Linked DNA regions of Homo sapiens: region 1 is linked to region 2. The links come from fine-mapping of genetic effects on gene expression. A gene starts in region 2. The other region holds a variant in brackets. All regions are shown on one strand. Distances are between the middles of the regions.

Region 1 (10,246 bases), 23 kb before region 2:
ATGGGCTTTGAGTTATAAAAGTATATACATTTTTCAGAACTAAGTAAAATGTGTGTGTAAATTAATTGTGTATTAATTGTACATCAAAAGGAAAAAATTGAACATTGAACTCTAATTAATGGCAGAGCATGTGGAAAGATCTAGGAGAAGCATGCACTTGTTTGCAGTTTACTTTCAAAAGCATATAACAAGTAATATATTAATTCAGGAGTAAATACATGAAAAAGCAAGAATATAGGTGCTGAGTGTATATTAGCATTCATGCTAAAATTCTTTCATTTCAGCTATACATTTCAAAAGTTTGATTAAAAAAATTTGGAAAAAGTAAAATGCTACAACCAATAGCTTTACAGAGAAGAGAAAACATATCAAAAAGACAAGAGATAACCAGTGTTGGAGAGGATGTGGAGAAAAGGAAGCCCTTATACATTGGCGGTGGGAATGTAAATTAGCACAGCTATTATGGAAAGTAATATGGAGTTTCCTCAAAATATTAAAAATAGAACTGCCTATATTCCAGCCCAATTCCACTTCTGGATACATATCCAAAGAAAATGAAATGAATATGTCAAAGCAGTATCTGCACTCCTATGTTCATTGCAGCTTATTCACAATAGCCAAGATATGGAATCAACCTAAGTGTCCATCAACAGATGAATGGATAAATAAAATGTAGTATATATGTACAATGGAATACTATTCAGCCTTAAAAAAGAAAGAAATCTGGTCATTTGAGACAATATGGATAAATCTGGAGGAAATTATGTTACACGAAATAGGCCAGGCTTAGAAAGACAAACACCACATAGAAACAGAGGGTAGGCAGGGTTCAGGGGCTCATGCCTGTAATCCCAGCACTTTGGAAGGCTGAGGCAGGAGGATCGCTTGAGTTCAGGAGTTCAGGTGTCATGGAGCATGCCTGTGGTCTCAGCTACTTGGGAAGTTGAGGCAGGAAGCTTGCTTGAGCATGGGAGCTTGAGGTTGCAGCAAGCTGTGATCAGGGCACTATACTCCAGCCTGGGCAACAAAGTGAGACCCTGTCTCAAAAAGAAACAAGAAATAGAGAGTAGAATTATGGTTACCAGGAGCTGAAGGACGAAGGAGTTGAGGAGATGTTGGTCAACAGATCCAAAGTTTCAGTTAGCAGAAGTAAGTAGAAGAGAGCTATTCTACATCACAGTGAGTAAAATTAATAAGAATGTATTGTATACTTGAAAATTGCTAAGAGAGTAGATTTTAAATGTTCTTTCACTACAAAAAATGGTAAGTATGTGTGGTAATAGATATGTTAATTCACTTGACTAGTCATTCCACAGTGTATACATATATCAAAATATCATGCTATATATCATAAATATGTACAATTTTTATTTGTCAATTTACAAAAGAAAAGGCAAAATAAATAAGGAACCTTATGACAACAAAATGCTCTCAAATAGTAAATCCCATCTCCTAAATACACATAAAATCAACAGGAGGATGGGAAGTTTAGGTTGAGACAATCTGCCCAAAAGACAAAGAGATGGAAAAATAGAAGAGTGAAGATAAGAAAATATAGCATTAGGCAAAAGGATTCAACATCATCTAAGTAGTAATCTAGACGATGAGAATTGAAAAAATGTTTCTGAGGAAATTACCAAAGAAATAACAGAAGAAAATGTCCCACAACAGGTAGGAAAGAATGTACTTTCCTAGACTGAAAGGACTATGTGTCTATTATTAGAGTGGACAGCCAGACAGACATGAGCAGGGCAGGAGAAGCCCCCCACCCCACCAGGAATGTCAGATGACCATCAGGTGCTAGTCAGGTGGTTGTTAAACTGTTTCTCTAAAATAATAATTGGTTGCTGCTGGCACCGGGGAAAGGCAGTCTCCCAATAGATAGAAAACACCTGAAGGTGGTGGTCAGCAGTTTCCCAATAAGATCTCAGGAGTTAGTTCAGTGTGCTCAAGCATGCACATTAAGAGGCATAATGGTGGAGTTTAACTGGCATATAACCTTCCTCCAGGAACACTCAGCTGATAAGGGGGAAAACACTTCAAGTGAGCATACACACAACTTCCAGTAAACATACTACTCATGGGGCCCCTCCCAAGTGCTGGCATGTACATGCAAACAGCCCACCCCAAGGAAGAATCAGGAAAGAAGAAATGCAAAACCCTACAAGCATGCCAACATATAAAAAGCCCAAGTCAAGGACTAAATGGCACACTTGAACTCTGGAGTTGCCCAGTGGGCCCTCTTCCAAGTGTACTTTACTTCCTTTCTTTCCTGCTTTAAAACTTTTAAATAAACTTTCGCTCCTGCTGTAAAAATTGCCTTCATCTCTCACTCTGACTTATGCTCTGCGGATGAATTCTTTCTTCTGACTAGGGAAGAATTGAGTTGCTGCAGACTCATATGGATTCACCACTGCTAACATACTTTGGTGCTGTGACTTGGATAAAACTGTATGGGATGGGTTTTGTGAGAGCACCAGCTATACTGAGGGAAACTTTGGAGGGAACCAGCTACTAGATGATTCAATTAGTCTTTCATCCCTATATCCAGGTTGGACAATCGATTTGCCCATCAGGACCATTGCGGACCTCCACCAGTTTCCTCTGGCTTCATCTTGCCCAGGCATAGTTCACAATCTTTCATTTCCTAACACCTGTGCTCATGCTCCACCTCCCCAGCGTGGCAGGAGATACAGACCAGTGGTAGACTGGTGGTATTCCCTCAGTAGAGTGGAGAGTCCTTGGGAACCCACCGTGGGTGATGAGTGCTCCAGTCTTCACCTTCATTGCACCATGGTCCATGGCAGTCCTGATGTGCAAATTAGGTGTCCAACCTGGGTATAGGAAAAAAGACTAATCAAACCATCTGGTAGCTGGTTCCCTCCAAAGTTTCCCTTAGGATACCTGGTGCTCTCACAAACCCATCCCATGCAGTATCCCAGTCATGGTGAACCTGACCCAATTGTCCCATAGACAGTTCTTCTTGATAAACATAGGAATTGACACTTTTGGTCTTAAAACTTAAAACTTATATTTGTTTTATCTGAGTTCCTTCCTCAGGAAACAACTTTCAGGCCTCTCAAAAAAAAAATATCAAGGAACTAAAATTCACCAGATTACCACATCCAGACAATCAGATGCCAGGACCTATCATTCAACATTATTGCTTCCTTGCCCCTCCCTAGTTCCTGTTCTCTTACATTGTTACATTTCTTCCCTTCTATATAAACCCCTAGTTTTAGTGGGTCAGGGAGATGGATTTAGACTGAGCTCCCATCTCCTCAGCTGCAGCACCTGATTAAAGCCTTCTTCCTTGTCAATAGTTGTCATCTTAGGGCTTGGCTTTCTGTGTGGCAAGTAGCAGGACCTAGACCGAACCCCTGGTGTTTTGGTAACAACAGCACCAAAGTATGTAAGCAGGGATGAATCCATATTTGTCTGCAGTAACTTGATTTTTGCCTTTTCAGAGGAAAGAATTCATATGAGAACCATAAAGCAAAGTGAGAGACCAAGGCAAGTTTTAGAGCAGGAGTGAATATTTATTAAAAAGTTTTAGAGCAGGAATGAAAGAGAGTTAAGTATACTTGGAAGAGGACCATGGAGGTGACTTGAGAGATCCAAGTGTGCCATTTAGTCCTTGACGTGGGGTTTTATATGTTGGCATGCTTCCAGGGTTTTATGTCTCTTCTCTCTGATTCTTCCCTTGGGATGGGCTGTCTGCATGTGCAGTGGCCTGCCAGCACTTGGGAGGCACCACATATGCAGTGTGTTTACTGAAGTTGTGCGCATGCTCACTTGAGGTGTTTTTCCCTTACCAGTCAAGTGTTCCTAGAGGAAGGTCATATACCAGTTAAACTCTACTACTGTGCCTCTTAGTGCGCATGCTTGAGCCCAATCACCCAACTCCTAAGATCTTAATGGGAAGCTGCTGATCACCAGCTTCAGGTGTTTTTTGTCTATTGGGAGACAGCTCTTCCTGGTGCTGGCCGCTACCACTTATTATTTTAGAGTTTAATAACCACCTGACTATAACCTGATAGTCACCTGACATTCCTGGTGAGGTGGGGGGCCCTCTCCTGTCCTGCTCATGTCTGGCTAACTACCTACTCTAACACTATCACAGTGATTGAGGAAAGATATTACCCCTACCAAGACATTTCAGAACCCAGGGACAGAGACTTTATTTGGAAAGCTTCCAGAACATGGAGTAGGGGATGGAAAGATGAAGTAGGGCAGAGTGGGGAGGGTGGGTGAGGAGGGGGTGGAAGCAAGTTGTCAACAAAAAACTGGGGATTGGAATGGTGTTACAGCACTATTGTCAAAAGATGATGGAATTATGCCTTTCAAATTCTGAATTATTTCCAATTTAGCATTGTATTATCAAATAGTCAAGTGGTGGGATTATAATAATAAAACATTTAAAAAGATGCAAAAGTCTCAAAAAAATTGATCTTTCATGCACACTTTGTCAGTAATTTACTGTGATGCTCACCTGAAGTAAACTTGTAAACCAATAAAGAAAGAAATATGAACTGTTTTCTGGGAAACAGGAAATCTGACTTTAGAGTGGAGTGAAGTGAATTCCTGAGATGATGGTGAAAGGAAATCCTAGTATAATGAAGAGGAGCTGTCCCAGGAAGCAAATTTTCCCAATTAGAGCAAGGGTATCCAAGGACTCTAGAAGGATTGTTCTAAGAAACAAAACAATCACATTTGCTTGTTGTTTATGAACAGGTTGTGGGGAGTTTTATTTAGATGAATGGGTGGGAGTTTGGGCAAAAATCAGTGGAAGGTACATAAGAAAGGAATTAAACAAGCAATAGGACTTGATTAAAGTGAAGCAACAAAAGTGTTACACAAAAAAGGCTCCTTCATTAATGAGTGTGTGGTTCAGCTATGGATTATTATATGCAAATCATAATGTCAAATTGAATATTAATAAAAAAGATCAATAACTACAGTGGGTGACTATAGGAAAGGGTACATTATAGAACTCAATCCTCATCTTCCATAGTATGAAGTCAGTAGATACTACTATTGAAAAAACTAAGAAACAATATTCTATATTATCGTTGAGGAATTTGATAATAAATACCAGAAAAAAATGAGTTGAACATCATTTCCTCTGGAGATCACAGATCAGGGTGAAGAAGGAACTAGGGGATGGCTGCTTTCATCATGTCTTATAAAGCTGTTTAACTGTTTAATGA[A/G]TAAGAAAATAAAATTTAAGTGTAGTTATATTAAAGAATACCATCAAGCATGTTCTCTATTGTTGAGAAAGAACATTCATTCTTCTAGCTCAAATTGAAACTGTCTCTGCAAAATTATGATGGAAAGAGACATCTGACTCCATCTTGCTTCTAGCCTTAGAGATTGGTTCTCTTTGTCCATTTCTGCATGTGGGCAAAGCTAACTTTGTGAGAAATTTAGTTTATAGTTTAAATGATAATAGCCCTTCCCGAAACTAAACTGTTCTTATAAAACAAATGAAAGACTACCAAGTTAGGAGGATAAGAGGGGCTTAAATTCTCAATAATTACCAGCCGTTATTCTGGAGGTCATAAGATTTGCACTTTCTCCAGTTAATCCTGCGGATAACATCACTGTTATAGAACCTAAGATTGGCCTTTTGAGATATCTTTTCAGAATTTTGCAATTCTGACAACTGGACGGCCCCACCTAGACCCACCAACCAGCCCTGTGGCCCCCACCCAAGAACTGACTCAGCACAAGAGGACAGCTTCCATTCCTTTGATTTTATCTCCAACCCAACCAATCAGCATGCACCCTATCCTAGCCCCCTGCCCACCAGACTATCTTTGAAAAACCCCTAACCTCCAAGCCTTTGGGGAAATCGATTTGAGTAATAACTCCATCTCCCGTGTGGCACAGCTGGCCTTGCATCAATGAAACTCTTTTTTTTACCGCAATGCCATAGTCTCAGTGAGCTGATTTTGTGTGTGCAGTGGGGAGGAAGAACCCATTGGGCAGTTACAAAATTCATGTCATAAAATATAATAATCTTGATTTTTTTCCAACGGAAAAGTTAAGCCTACTAGTCATAAACTTGTAAGCATAAAGTTAAGTGAAGCAATGTATATTTTATAATAATTTTTTTCATGTAAGAAAACTCAGTGATATTTTCTAGATCTCTTTCTCCTCAAGGAATTGACTTGAGAGTAGTGAAAATATGAAAAGTACACAAGTAAGTATAGAATAAATTTTTATGGAGTACTGAATTTATTTAGAAGAAATGAAATGTAAATGTGCTATATTGTGTTGTGTATAGATCAAACAAAATATATCAGGGACATTAGTTGTTACAGGATTGATTTCCATAAAACTCTAGTCTGAGCAGGTCACCTTAAGCTGAAAAACATCACTCTGTCCCGCTGCCTACAAAATAAAGCTTAAACTTCTTTCCTTGATGTATGATGCTATCTGTGCTCTACCCTGAACACATATTTCCTAAATAATTTATTGCCATTCTCCCTTGCTGTACCCTTCAATAGAATCAAAGTGAGATTGCAGCAGTTCCTCATAATCAAAACTTTGTTTCTCTCCTCCAGGACTTTTCTTTTTTCCTATTATAATTTAAAAAATTCTTTTATCATAAAACATAATGTATCTTAAAATTATTTTATATTTAAAGTATTAAGTAAAATCAAATTTAAATATATTTTGTCTGTATTTGAAATTAGTCTTAAAATTATTTTAAAAATTAAAAAGAATTAAAAATCAACTGTCCATTAACTTTACATCTCTTTTTAGCCATAATCTGATCTTTTATCTTTTAGAGATACCTTCTTGAAAGTGAAGCGGCGTCACTGTCTGGGGTAAATACCCAAGGTTCACTGTCTCACACCAGGGGAATCAAGGATATGGACACACAAGAAATGGTTTTAGGAGCAGAGGTTTAATAGGCAAAAGAAAGAGAATGGAGAATAGCTCTCTCTCCTGGGAAAGAGAGGGGCGCCCAAATGAGACTTCAGTCATGGCAGAGTGCACTGGGTTTTATAGACTGGCTTGAGGAGGTGGTGTCTGATTTACACAGGGCCCAGAGATTGGTTGGACCAGGTGTGACGTTTTCTTTCTTTCTTTCTTTCCCTTCCTCCCTCCCTCCCTTTCTTCCTTCCTTCCTTCCCTTCCTTTCCTTCCTTCCTTTCTTCCCTCCCTCCGTTTTCCTTCCTTCCATTCTTCCCTCCCTCCCTCCCTCTTTCCCTTCCTTCCTTCCTTCCTTCCTTTCTTTCTTCCTTCCTTCCCTTCTTCCTTCTCTCTCTCTCCCTCCCTTCTTCTTTCCTTCCTTCCTTATTTTCCTTCCTCCTTCCCTGTCTCCTTCCCTCCTTCCTTCCTTTCTTTCTTTCTGGATTGTGGGGCATTCTATTTCTTTTGTAATAGCTCATGAAGAAGCTGGCCACCCCACCCTAATCTTTTATTATGCAAATGTGTTTTCTACCGGGCTGGCGCCATGTTGTCTTCTCCTTATTGTACACATGGTTGGCAAGGAAAAGGGAAGGTGGAGCCCCCATGTTGAACATACCTGGCCCCCAGGTTAGCTTTTTCCCATTGGCACAGCTGCCAGCATTCACCTGTGCAAGCTTCCAGCTTGCTTATCTATGTCTGCAGCTTGATTTTACAGGCTGCTGTTTGTTAGAAAAGAAATTATTTTGGGGCTGCTTTTCATTAAAAGGAAAACCTTACCGAGGACTTCTTTACCCTCACTATCTGCCTAAATAATTTCTTTCTAACTCCTATATCAAATGGACTGAAAGATGTTTATTAGGTTTAGTTAGGTTTATTAGGTTTAGTTAGGAGGTTTATTAGGTTTAGTTAGGAGGTCTGAGGCCACCTTAGCAAAAGCAGTATCATTGGAGTTCTAGAAATTTATACAGGTAACAAGAGATAAATAAGAAATTAGAGTAAACACATGCAGATATTTCCAGGCTAGCAGTCAGCACGTTTCTGTAAAGGGCCAGATTTTAGGTAGGCTCCCTCCTTCCTTCCCTCTTTCCTTCCCTCTTTCCTTCCTTCCTTCCTTCCCCCCTCCTCTTCTTCCTTCTCTCTTTCCCTCCTTCCTTGTTTCCTTCCTTCCTTCTTTCCCTTCCCCCTTCCCTGTCTCCCTCCCTCCCTTCCTTCCTTCCCTTCTTCCTTCTCTTTTTCCCTCCTTCCTTCTTTCCCTTCCTCCTTCCCTGTCTCCCTCCCTCCCTCCTTCCTTGCTTTCTTTCTTTCTGGCTTTGTGGGGAATTCTACTTCTTTCATAATTAGTCAACTCTGCCAGCATACAGTGAAAACAGCCATGCACAATACATAAATAAATAGCACAGCACAGTTGTATACCAGTAAAACACAGATTTGGCTTAAAGGATACAGTCTGCTTACCTTTTTTCCTAATGTCACCACATAAGCCTCTTCCACAAGTTGCTTAATTGCAGCATAAGCATAAGAGGCACTATCTTCTCCCAGAAGAAAAGATTAGAAAAAAGGAGATCTGGAGCACAGGTGTCATTGGAAAACACACTTGAGCCCAAGAAATAAGCCAAGTGAGCACAAAGTAATACTATAATAATGTTAAAATCACAAAATTAAAAATCTAGTCAAATTCTCTAATTCTATAATTGCTAAAACCAAGGCGCAGAGACAAATGTGACAAAGACACACCTGGGACACAGTAGGTGCTCAACACATTTTTTGATGAATTATTAACTTGCTCAAGGCTGTGTCTGTAATAAGAAGCACACCTGAGAATATAATTCAGGTTTTGAGATTCACATGTAGAGTATTATTTTCACTCTGACAGGTCAACATCACAGGGAAAGTATTTCCCACATGTATGAGCTAGCATGATTATTAACAGCATAGGCTAAGTTATGCTGTGCTTAAAAAAACAGCCCCAAATAACCTTTTTCTTTTCTATGTAATCTGCATACCTATAGGGTGTGGGTGAGGACTCCCCTCATTTTAGTCTTTCAGGGATGCAGATGAAGGAGGTTCTATCTCCGCCTGTCCATCTACAATCACTACTGCAGATAAAGAGCACAATTCAAAGATCTTGCTCCCACAATTAAGTGTTCCACCCTGGAATCGACACATAACACATCCTCCCACAAACCACTGGCCAGAACTAGTCATATGCCCATACTTGATTTAAAAGGGCCAGGATCCCAGGCCAGGTGGCTCACGCCTGTAATCCCAGCTACTAGGGAGGCTGGGGCAGGAGAATTGCTTGAACTCCGGAGGTGAAGGCAGAGGTTGCTGTGAGCCAAGATGGCGCCACTGTACTCCAGCCTGGGCAACAGAGTGAGACTCCATCTAAATAAATGAATAAATGAATAAATAATAAAAGGGCCAGGACTCACAAGGTTCTTGTGTGCCTAGAATAATAGGGAAACCAAGTATTTCTGAATCCTGAATGCTGTGTGGTAGAAATGAAACTGACTTTGCAAAAGTTACAACAGCAAGAAAACTATGGCAGTGGAGGAGATCTGATCTAGCCAACCCCCATCTTGCCTTTAGCATTCAAGCCGCCCTTGAATATTCCTGGGCGTGGGTCAAGCTAACTGTGGGAGATGTTTAGTTTATAGCTTAAGTGATAATAGCCTTTCCCCAAAATTCAGCCACCTTGTAAAGCTAGTGAGAGACCACCGGGGCTAGGAGGATTAGAGGGGCCTGAATTCTGCTAAGGTGTAGACATAAATGATTGCCAGCCATTCATTATTCAGGAGGTCACAAGATATGCAACGTCCCCAATTACTCCTGCAGATAACATCACTATTGTAGAACTTAAAATTGGCTTTTTGAGATGTCTTTTCAGGTTTTTGCACCTTTAATGACTAGTGGCTCCACTGAGACCCACCAATCAGTCCTGTGGCCTCACCCAGCAACCCACTCAGTGCAAGAGAATAGCTTCTACTCCCTATGACTTCATCCCTGACCCGACCAATCAACACTCATACCCTAGCCTGCTGCTCACCAAACTATCTTTGAAAAACCCCTAACCTCCAAGCCTTCGAAGAGATTGATTTGAGTAATACACGTGGCATGGCCAGCCTCACGTCAATTAAACTCTACCTTTATTGCAACGCCATGATCTCTGTGAAATGATTTTGTTTGTGCAGTGAGCAAGAAGAACCTTTGGGGCAGTTACAGAAAAACTATAGAAAAAGAGGTTGATAGGTCCACCGTATAAATCAAAACAGGTTTCTGTTTTGCTTGGTAAGAGTTTTCTTTTTTCTCTTCATAAAGAAAT
Region 2 (10,246 bases):
CAGAACTAATCCAAAGCAAAGGGAATCAGACTGATTTGTACTTGAATTGGTACTCTTGCAACCTTGACAGTGGGGGTTTAATACATCACTGGGGTTCAAGATACTCTGCTACTTACTAGCTATGACCTTGGGCAAGTTACTTACCTGGTAAGTGTCTCAGTTTCCTCATCTAAAAAAATGGGAATAATAGTAGTACCTACTTCATGATGTTGTTTTGAGAATTAAATGAGTTGAGGGAGTGTATAAAGTGCTGTTATCAATACCTAGTACATAGTAAATGCTGTATGTGAGCTCATTTGCATTAGTTGTGGGAGGCATTTCGGGCAAAAATGAAGAAAACTCTCTATGTGCACCTCCCTTTTATGGCCAGATTATTCATATGTGCTGGGTTCCTTGGAAAGATATTTTTCCCTTTTTGTTACAAAGTGGCAAGGTGAAACCAAAACAGAAAGAGGATAAGTATGCTTCAGGGATAGAAGTCTAAATTCAAGAAATCCATATAGAACATCTCTGCTCTCTGACTTCAACATTTAATTAATTTCAATGGATTACATTGCTAATACTTCCTAATTGGGTCAACTGGACTTCACCACTGTTCCCTCATCTCTCCGAAACCTATTTGTGTAAGGAACTGTGCAAGGTGTCTTACAAATGGAGTTGGACAATGGCTTTAGTGAATTCTATAAATTGGATTCTGTACATCTGTAAATTATGCTGACAGGCACTTCTATAACACAATGAGGTCAAAACAGTCTCACCGAAAATGGTCTTTTCATGCTGTATCCAACCCAAAAACGGCGAAAGGATCCTAAAGGTACCATGGCATATGTGCAGAAAAAGTTGATAAATTCAATCCAAGACAATGGTTACCTTTCAGCCAATTTTAAAGGGACTACCTAATACAAATCTTAAAACTTATAGTAATAGTACCTTAATTAAAGATATTTTATGAAGAACCTACTATGCGAAAATATACTGTGTTACACACTGTAAAGTAAAAGAAAATTATTAAGATACAGTTCATGATTTTAGAGAGTTTGCAGTTTAAAAGAGAGACCAAAATATGCATGCAATTGACTAAAGGAAACAAAACAGAGTATAAATGCCATGAGTCAGAGGCAAAGTTTAGACTGAAAGAACATAGCTGGACTGAATTGATATTCTAAAATTCAATTCATTCATTTAATTGCTATTTCTGGAGTATCTACTATGTGCCAAGTCATGAGACATAGCTGTTCCCACAAAGGGGTGCTAATATCTATAAACTCAATTTTTGACTAGTTTCCAGGTTACAGGGTAGAGAGCAGAAATAGCTTCAGCTTTAGAGTTAGAAAAACCTGAACTAAAACCTTGCCCTACCAATGATACATTGGGTGACTTGGGTAAATAATTTGTCATCTCTTAGCTTCATGTCAGATATCAGAGTGTCATCTTTGATTTCCTCCTCTAACTTCATCCTTCATTTAGTTAATCAACATTAGTCCTTTACTATGTCTGGAATCCATCCCATCCCCGTTAACCCTATATCTTAAGTCCTAACAATAACCCCATGATTTGTTACAGATTCTGTAGCCTAACAAGTCACTTCTCATTATCCACAAGATGTAAGTCTATTGTTCTTAACAAGGCATTTAGGACTTTCAATGAGCTGAACTCTGCTTACATTTTTAACCTCACATGAAAATAATACTCCTCCACATATACTTTACATATCTTTAACTACCAGCCTGTTGGGTGTCTCTGTGCCTCTGTACATGCTATCTTTTTTAAAAAAGAAATAGAATCTTGCTTTGTTTAGGCTGGAGTGCAGTGGTGCAATTACTGCAACCTCAAACTCCTGGGCTCAACAGATCCTCCTACCTCAGCCTCATGAGTAGCTGAGACTACTATTTTATTGTTAATAGAGACAAAGTCTCGCTATCCTGCCCGGGCTGGTCTCAAATTACTGGGCTCAAGTGATCCTTCTGTCTTGGTCTACCAAAGTGCTGGGGTTACAGGTGTGAGCCACCAAGCCCAGCATCTGATGCCATTATTTATATATATGCCGATTGCCTCAACAAGACGAAGCAACTGAGGACAAAGACAAAGCCTTTCACCTTTGAATTCCCAGTCTTAACATAATGTCTGTCACTGAGAAGCTATGCAATAAATGTTTATTGTAGTAATGAAGCCATGTTTAGGGATAAATAGAAAGAACCAAGAAGTGCTTTATGAAGGAGGTGATATTTAATGTTGGCCTTGAAAAGCTTTGAAAATACTCCCTGAATTTTAAATGTGCAATTTTGGGATGCTCAGAGTTTTAACATACATAAATGGGTATGCATATCCTCATGTTGCTCTTCTTTCTTTGTCTCTTGCTCTCTTTCTTCCTTTCTTTCTTTTGACTGAGTCTTGTTGTATGGCCCAGCCTAGATGCAGTGGCACACTCATAGTTCACTGCAGCCTCAAACTGCAGCTCAAGGGTCCTGCTGTCTCAGTTTTCCCAGTAGCTGGAACTATAAGTGTGCACCACTATGCCCAGCTAATTAAAAAAAACAATTTGTTTTAGAAATGGGGTCTTTTTATGTTGCCCAGTCTTGAACTGCTGGCCTCAAGTGATCCTTCCACATAATTGGGATTACAGACGTGAGCCTTTGTACTTGGCTTCATTCTCTCTTTAAAACATACACATTTTGCCAGCTGAAGCTTTGTCTCTTCTATTCAAAGCCCTAAGTGCAATAGTCTGAGCATGGTGAAGACTTAATAAGTGTCTTTATTTCATTTAAAGAAGCATCCTCCTGATGCCTCTTAAAAGAGAAAGACTCTTGATTTCAGGAAGCGTACCATCTTGGTACCTTATGTGGTATCAAAAATAGTAGGCTTTTTAGCTGGGTCATAGATGGCCTTCCTTATGGCTCTACGCTATACCTTTTAGCAAATAGAAATGTTGGTATTCACTCTGTGTATTTAATTTCTCCTGGACACATTAAAAAATACATAAGTAAATATACCTTCGAACCAAAATGGAAAGCACGAGGCAACCCTGGACACCTCACTGCTATTTAACTTAACCCTCCCTAGGCAGATCATATGAGTCCGATTGTAAAAGTATTAATGTGGACATCTTTCCACTCTGGATCAAGTCCATTTCAGGTTATCAGGGATGGTTAAGCTCCTAGCTATTCTAGCAGATTTCTTATGTCTTAATGCATGAAATTAATAATAGTTCCTGGGATATTCCACACTTATCTATTACATGTTTCCACATATTTAAAATACAGAAGGAAAACATGAACACCAATAAAGAAACTATGAGTAACAGAAATCCAGAACACAGTGAAGAAAGAAAGAAAAAAATATATACTGCTGCAGTCAGCTTTTAGGAAAACTGTTTCCATCATTCTGAAAATTTATATTTATTAGAAATAAATCTAATTTTGGCAGCACATCATGGTTAGGAGCCAGGGAAATTGTCATTGGGACCTTAGTATTGTATTTCACAAGAAAGAGAGCTCTGTGAGGAAGCCTGGGCTATCTGCAAACCTTCGACTCGGAAATCCCTGCATAATAAGAAAGGTATTGGCTAAATTTGAGCAGCTCACGCAGTATCTAGAGGAAACATTATGAAGTGGGATAGTGTGGTGTCTGAGATGCAGTTATAGGTATACAGACATGACTCAAGGCGTGGATTAGGAAGGCCAACTTTGGAGGGGAGGGCTGGCTCGCTCATTTCTCTTCTCCCTGTCAAATGCTGAAAGGCTGGTTCCAGCCTTTGAGCTCCTGCACTTTGAGAGTTTTCAGCTGGGTTCTCAGGCTGCGTTCACCCGTCGACTTGCTCCAGGCCAAACCAGATTTTGAAAAGGAAGGCAACTTCTTTTTCGCGGCAAACCCTTAAACCCACGCACCTTCTCAAAACTCTGCCCTTCTCAACCCCTGCGCTAGAGTAGGCAGGGCAGAAGGTGCTGAGGAGAGGCTCAGAAGGGGCGGTGGGGACGATCCCCTTTCGAACTGCATTTGTAGCTGCCAAGGAGTAGCCAACAAGCACCAGATTTATGTGCACTTTGAAAGAAGCACCTTCACCATTGGCTTTTTAAGCGGCGCTGTCGCTAGGGAGCGGCTGGTAGGGCGAGCAGCCTCGGGGAGCAGCCCGGGCTGTTTGTTCCGTCACCGGGGAAAGGAGGTACACACAGTCGCGCGCGCACGGACACACACACACACGCACGCACGCACACACACCGGTGGCGAGTTCGAGCCCCGCGGCCCCTGTCCGCCCGCGTGCGCCCCTCGACACAGCTCGCCTCCCGCCCCCTGATTCCTGCTGCTGCCGCCCAGAGGAGAAAGGAACCTCTGCCTCGAATTTCCCCACTGCGCCGGGCGCTGCGGAGAGCGGCGAGGGTGGGCGCGAGGCGGAGAACGCGATGAATGAGTTCTCCCCTCGCCTCGGAGTTGTCTGAGTTGGCGGCGCTGCGCCCAGGCTTCCGGCTCTCAGCGCCCCACGCGCGCGTGGCTCCCCGGGCTGCCACCCACGCCCGCGGCCGGGGCCGAGCCAGCCACGCAGGGCAGCCGAGGCTCCGGAGCTCCTGTCCCGGCCCCAGTCCGGGTAAAAGGAGGGTTGTCCCCAGCGGAGGCGCACAGCCGCGCGTTCTCCCTGCACTCTCTTCGCGGTCCCATCTGTTCCCCATGGCGTCTCATCCGCAAACCCGGATCCAGGCTTACCTGGAGAAGAACAAGATCGGTCCCCTGTTTGAGGTAAGGCGCTGTGGAGGAGGGCAGTCCCGTTGTCTTTAGGGGAAGGGGTGCAGTAATGAAAACAGAACACTCCCAATCCCACCCCTCCCAGGGAAGGAGGGCTAGAGAACCAACGCGCGGGAGAGGGCGCCCTGGGATTCACTGGCATTCGCTCTGTCCCGGCCAGGTGTCCTGGAACGCGGCCGGGCGGGCACTTAGCCAGTTACCTGAACGCGGACAGGTGAGCTCGGGAGGGCCCAGCCTCAGCCTGGCAGGGGAAGTTTTGGCCCTCTGACTGTCCTGCACCTCTCAGCTACATGTTCAGGACCCGGGCAGGCTGAGGCAGGCGACGCATACGGATGCACACACTCAGACTGTGTTGCACACGCACACTTTCTTTTTTGAATTCACGCTATCTTGAGTGTTCGTGTTGGATTTTCTTTTTTCTTTTCTTTTCTTTCCTTCTTTTTTTTTTTTTTTTTTTTTTTTTTTTTAATGAGGGCGGTAATAGAACCCGAAAAGGTGGAGGAGGTGCTTAGCAGTTAATACAATTAACTGGAAGACAGCTGAACTGGTGAGGAGTAGGCTTCAGTCGGTGCGGGCGTGATGAATGAAATTGGCAAACTGAGAGACTGCCATTTGGTCACTGGACGAAAGGAGAGTCCTTTGCACTGCAGACCCCACATGTGTTAGCAGGAGAAAGGGACGGAGAAAGGTTCTGAAAAGCACACACGTATTTGTGGAAGAAGACTATAGCTCTGAGCTGGTTTTGTTTTTTTTTCTCTCTCTCGCCATTAAAGAATTTAAGACAAAAATACAGTAGAAGGAAGAGCGCGAGGACACGAGAAAATGAGAACAAGAGATTGAAGCCTGGCACCAGCAAAGCGTCCCGCGGGTTGCCAGGGTGCTGAGCAGGGGTGGGGCGTGCGGACCGTAGTCAGAAGTGGAGGCCCTTGCGGAGGGACTCCCTTGGTCCCATCCAGTTCAGGGGGCACTGACCGGCGGCGAGAGTTCGCGGGAGGGTCGAGGTGCTCCCGCCTTGCCCCCGCCTTGCCCCCGCCTTGCCCCCGCCCCCCACGTCTCCCAGAAGCAGTTGTAGCTGTTCTTAACAGCTTGGTTTGGGGTGAGGGCTTGGTATGGGGAGGAGGTTACGTGTCAGTGTCTGAGAGAGGCAGAATCGCGGCAAGTGGAAGGGGCTGCACTGGAGATCGCGGAAAACCTAGCAAAGACTGAAGAGAAGCAAGTGAGAACTGTGGAGAACAAAAAAATAATGCGAGTTAATGACCCTGCAAAAAAAGGGCGCGGAGGACAAAGGTGTGGTCCAATAGGTCTTTTGGGAGGACGGGTTTCACATAACAAGATTTGCAAGATCTCCTAAGTTTTTTTGCCCAACTTTAACGTTGATCTGTCTTAGACGATAAGACCATTGTTTCAATTGAAGCTCGCATTGTGGGGTGCAGAGTCCTACAATTGCTTTGATTCTTTTTTCTGCCAAAAATGTTAACAAAGGCAATCCATGCAAGAGCGAAATAAAATTGATGGAACTACCAGATTTCTTTTCTTTGCCTTTAGTTTAATGATTATTGATTATACATAATCCTATATAATTTTTTTAAAGGCAGAAGCCTAAAACCTTCTGCAACGCAGTGTATTAATTGCATCGAAAGAATCATAAAATACATACATTTAGAGTGTGTGTTTTCTCTCTACTCTCCTGGAGTATAAAGTACAATTAGCCTGGGAGAATAAATGAATTGTTTTTAATAAATACTGTTTTAATTTGTTATCTTAAAATCCCCAAGATTTTAATAATAATAAAATTAGGAATATATGTAAACTTTCTGCAGAATTAGAAAATAAACTCAAATGGATATTTATGAAGTGCCCCCTAACCCCCACCTTTTGATGCTCACCAGCAAGTTATGCGCTGAAGAATTTTAAGTGATAGCAACGTGTCTCATAAAAGCTTTAGGTCCCCTCACCAAAAAACAAGCACCACCATGCTTCGTATTTTATTGAATACATATGACATACACTGGCATTAGCTTAGATTGCAGTGATGAGTAGTGCATTTTTTAAGGTTTGATGTCCACTTTAAATAATTGAAGGGAGAAAAATGGATAATAAATTCTCTTTTAATAAAAGCTGGATGTAACACAGTTCCTTATGCAACAATTTTGATCATGATAGAGCTTGACTTTGAGAGTACAATTATACGTATTTCACAAAATTGGAAGATTTTACTAGCGTGTAGCCTACTTGTTTCATGTTAGAAAACCAGTGCCACCTGTGAAATGGACATTGTTGACCTAGAGACCGTCCATTCTCTTCTAGGACCTTACTCAATAGTTTTCACAGGAATTGATTTGGGTCAGAGGAGGTGCCCAGCAATCTGAACATATTTAGAAGCAGCACAAATGTTTGCTACAATTTTAATTTCTGGGCCACATTTTGAGAAACTGAGCTAAAATCTCCTTTTACCACTCACAAATTGAAATTGGCCGCTTCATGTCTTGTCATCTATGCTTTGTTGTGTTGAGTCAGTGTAGCTGACACAGGCTTCTTTCAGTTTGGAAAATATGCGGTATCTGATAATATGTCCCCCTTGTGGATAGTTTAAGTTAGGAATGTTTTAAGAAAACTTAATTGGTATGAGATACTTTAAAGATAATCTATGAATGTTTTTTAAAACAATAGCAAAAAGTAACCTATTCACTGATATTGAGAATACTTGATCCTCTTTTTTACCTGTAGGGCTTATTTACCTAGTTTGTTCACTTAGTTTATTTCTTACTTAGTTTATTGCTAATATTTTATGATTTGAGATGCTTATTAAAGTGTTACATGCAGTATGGTGTTTCAAAATTTATTTTAAATTGAAATTAATTTTGTTTCCAGCTGACTCAGGTGAATAAATTTGTACTACTTTTAAATTTCATTGAAGATGTTTTGGAGCATTACAAAACTATGCCTAAAAATCATTGCATTAGAATTCTGGACAATGATATTCTGATTAGATAATATGAAGGTGTAAGATGAAAAATACATTTCACAAACTTTCTAATTTTTGTAAGATGTAATGGTTTACATCTTACAAGATAAATATTTGTAATATATATAAATATTATATATAGTGGAATATATATATTCCATGTATGTTTGTGTACACACACATTTTATATAAAGAAATAGAAACTTTTGAGTTTCTCCCATTATTGATTGGAAGAGTGCTCAGGGCAGTTATATATCTTGGTTCAGGCCTGATCACACTCACAAGAGTGTGAAATCTTAAGTTACTAAGAAGCCAAATAGTGGGGATCTTCATAAAATCACCATGGAATTTTTAAATTTGTGTACTGAAGATGTGGCAAACAAAAGTCACTACATTTCTCTAAGTATGGTATGACCCACTCCAAATAGAATGGAATCACTATCACCTTCTCTGTTCCACTCAAAGTGCTTCTACTCACATGGTGTAAATTTGCATTAACTGATTTGGCATATATGTTATAAAATGGACTTATCAAACTTATGATCAAAGCCTGCATCACTTATATATTTTGCTGTTGCCCAGCTTGCTCTTCTCTGGTACCCCACGGCACTTCTTCCAGCCATGTATGCAACCCTGAACTCCAATTTGCTGCCAACCCTCAGCAAGCCCATTATTTCACTTTATTGACCTCCCTGATCATATCTAAAAAATGCTCCTTGCGTTTATCAGAGAGCTGTAGTGTCTGCGGAGATCTCCTTTCGTTGTTCCCCCTCTCATAAGGATCACAGCCGTGGGCTACCTGTTATTTAATACATGAAAAGAAATATTTTTGTCTAATTTAGGCAGGCTTATGATTGTTTAGGGCAGTTGTTTGGGGATAAGAAGGATACTAGTTACTCACTTATGGCCAGAGGTAAAATACCCCTCCAGAAAGATATTTTAATGTTTAAAAATAATTTGTCGTTAATAAAGGTAAAAGTGTCATTTTAATAAAAATGATTAGGAAAATGCTTTTATTAGAGAAGTAATAAAATATAAGCTTGGTAGTTATAATATGTTCAACTTAAATATTGTAAATATATTTTTTGGAGTAATGATTGTCAGGTGATCTTCCCCAGTGCTCAAAGTTATGAAGACTTTTCCTATATCAAAATTTGCATTAATCTTTATAATCTCAGAGCATTTAGAGGAGGCAGAAGACAAAGCAGTTCCATTTTATAAAATTTTGCCTAGAGTCCAAGTTAAGTGTTGTCATTGACTTACTTCAAAACAGTTTTTTAAAATGTTACTTTAATTAACATGTTTCTATTACCAGCCCATTTATTTTTCATTTCTGCCTTAATGTATTTTATTTTCATGCAGCTTTTAAATAGCTTAATAAAGTGACCCAAAATTCAATTCAATAAATCACTATATAACCTTAGAAATAGTAATATGTACATATACCAATATGGCATCAATAAATTTGAAAAAAGAAATAATATTTTGGGCAGGCATGGTGGTTCATGCCTGTAGTCCCAGCACATTGGGAGGCTGAGGCAGCTGGATCACTTGAGGTCAGGAGTTTGAGACCAAAGACCAGCCTGGCCAACACAGTGAAACCACATCTCTACTAAAAATTCAAAAATTAACCAGGCATGGTGATGCACACCTGTAATCCCAGCTCCTCGGGAGGCTGAGGCAGGAGAATTGCTTGAACCCAGGAAGTGGAGGTTGCAGTGAGCCAAGATTATGCCATTGCACTCCAGCCTGGGCAACAGAGGGAGACCCCATTACAAAAAAAAGAAAAAAAATAGTATTTTAATATTTGTGGGTCTCTCTTAAGAGAATGTGATCAATGGAAATATGAGACTACAAAAATAACATAGGCTTTCCTCCCTTTTTTTTTTCATAATTCAATTAAGAAGCCATGAACCATACAAAGAGAACAGCTAAGACTACAGCTAAGACCCATATGACAAGGAGAGCTAAGTTGGGAGTTCACCTGGAAAGTATCAGAGCACAATTAAAGAAAGGGGCTGAGTGGGCAGTGGCCTGGCAGGGTCAGAAGATTTGTTACGTACAAGGTGGGGGCAGGGTATTCAGAAAATAATTAAATATATTGAAAAAATATATATTCAAGTCAGCCTTCTTACTGATGGACATAGGAGTCACAGAGATAGTATAGGGAAAGCTAGAATGAACCTTGTTGTGTTGGATTGAAATTGGAGGTGTTGGTGTGATCTCATGACTTTCAATAATAGAAACAGGTATAGATGTAATAGAAACAAATATAGATTTGTATGTATTTACATATACTTAAGTGCATATACCTACATTTACTTCCCAACTCTGTCTACTGGAAGGGCCTGGGAATAACAACATCCTGGTAGCAATGAGCACACCTAGCATCCACATTTTGGTTTCTAAATACCATTCTCCATTAAGTAGAACCAGGTGTCCTTGAAGAAATGGTTGATTCCAGGTTTGGGGCTAAGCAAGGTTTGGAGTATCATATGTCAAAAAGTAAGGAAGAGCTCAAAGAATAGTAGGTATGTATCAAAGGAC

Alleles and levels. Alleles are on the strand shown, and positions count from the first base shown. SD is a standard deviation of normalised expression in the study named.
For the expression in sun-exposed skin of the gene that starts at base 4,880 in region 2, allele G in region 1 goes with a lower level than allele A (small effect, 0.28 SD a copy in GTEx).

Evidence for each region. PIP is the estimated chance that this variant, and not a neighbour inherited with it, causes the effect.
Region 1: its variant is the best candidate, but not a certain one, in a credible set for the expression of C8orf34-AS1 in sun-exposed skin (GTEx, PIP 0.79).

The regions. Positions count from the first base shown.
Region 1 is chr8:68,303,765-68,314,010 of GRCh38, forward strand. C8orf34-AS1 (C8orf34 antisense RNA 1) reads right to left here. Exons shown (of 3, transcript NR_038877.1): 2 at 2,754-2,834; 3 at 1-1,037. Among named protein-coding and RNA genes, the nearest start is that of C8orf34, 22 kb to the right of the region's middle. RefSeq lists a silencer at 2,509-2,709. The variant A/G (reference allele first, on the strand shown) is at 5,211.
Region 2 is chr8:68,326,612-68,336,857 of GRCh38, forward strand. C8orf34-AS1 (C8orf34 antisense RNA 1) reads right to left here and starts at 4,880. Exons shown (of 3, transcript NR_038877.1): 1 at 4,696-4,880. C8orf34 (chromosome 8 open reading frame 34) reads left to right here and starts at 4,344. Exons shown (of 14, transcript NM_052958.4): 1 at 4,344-4,728. The coding sequence starts at 4,402.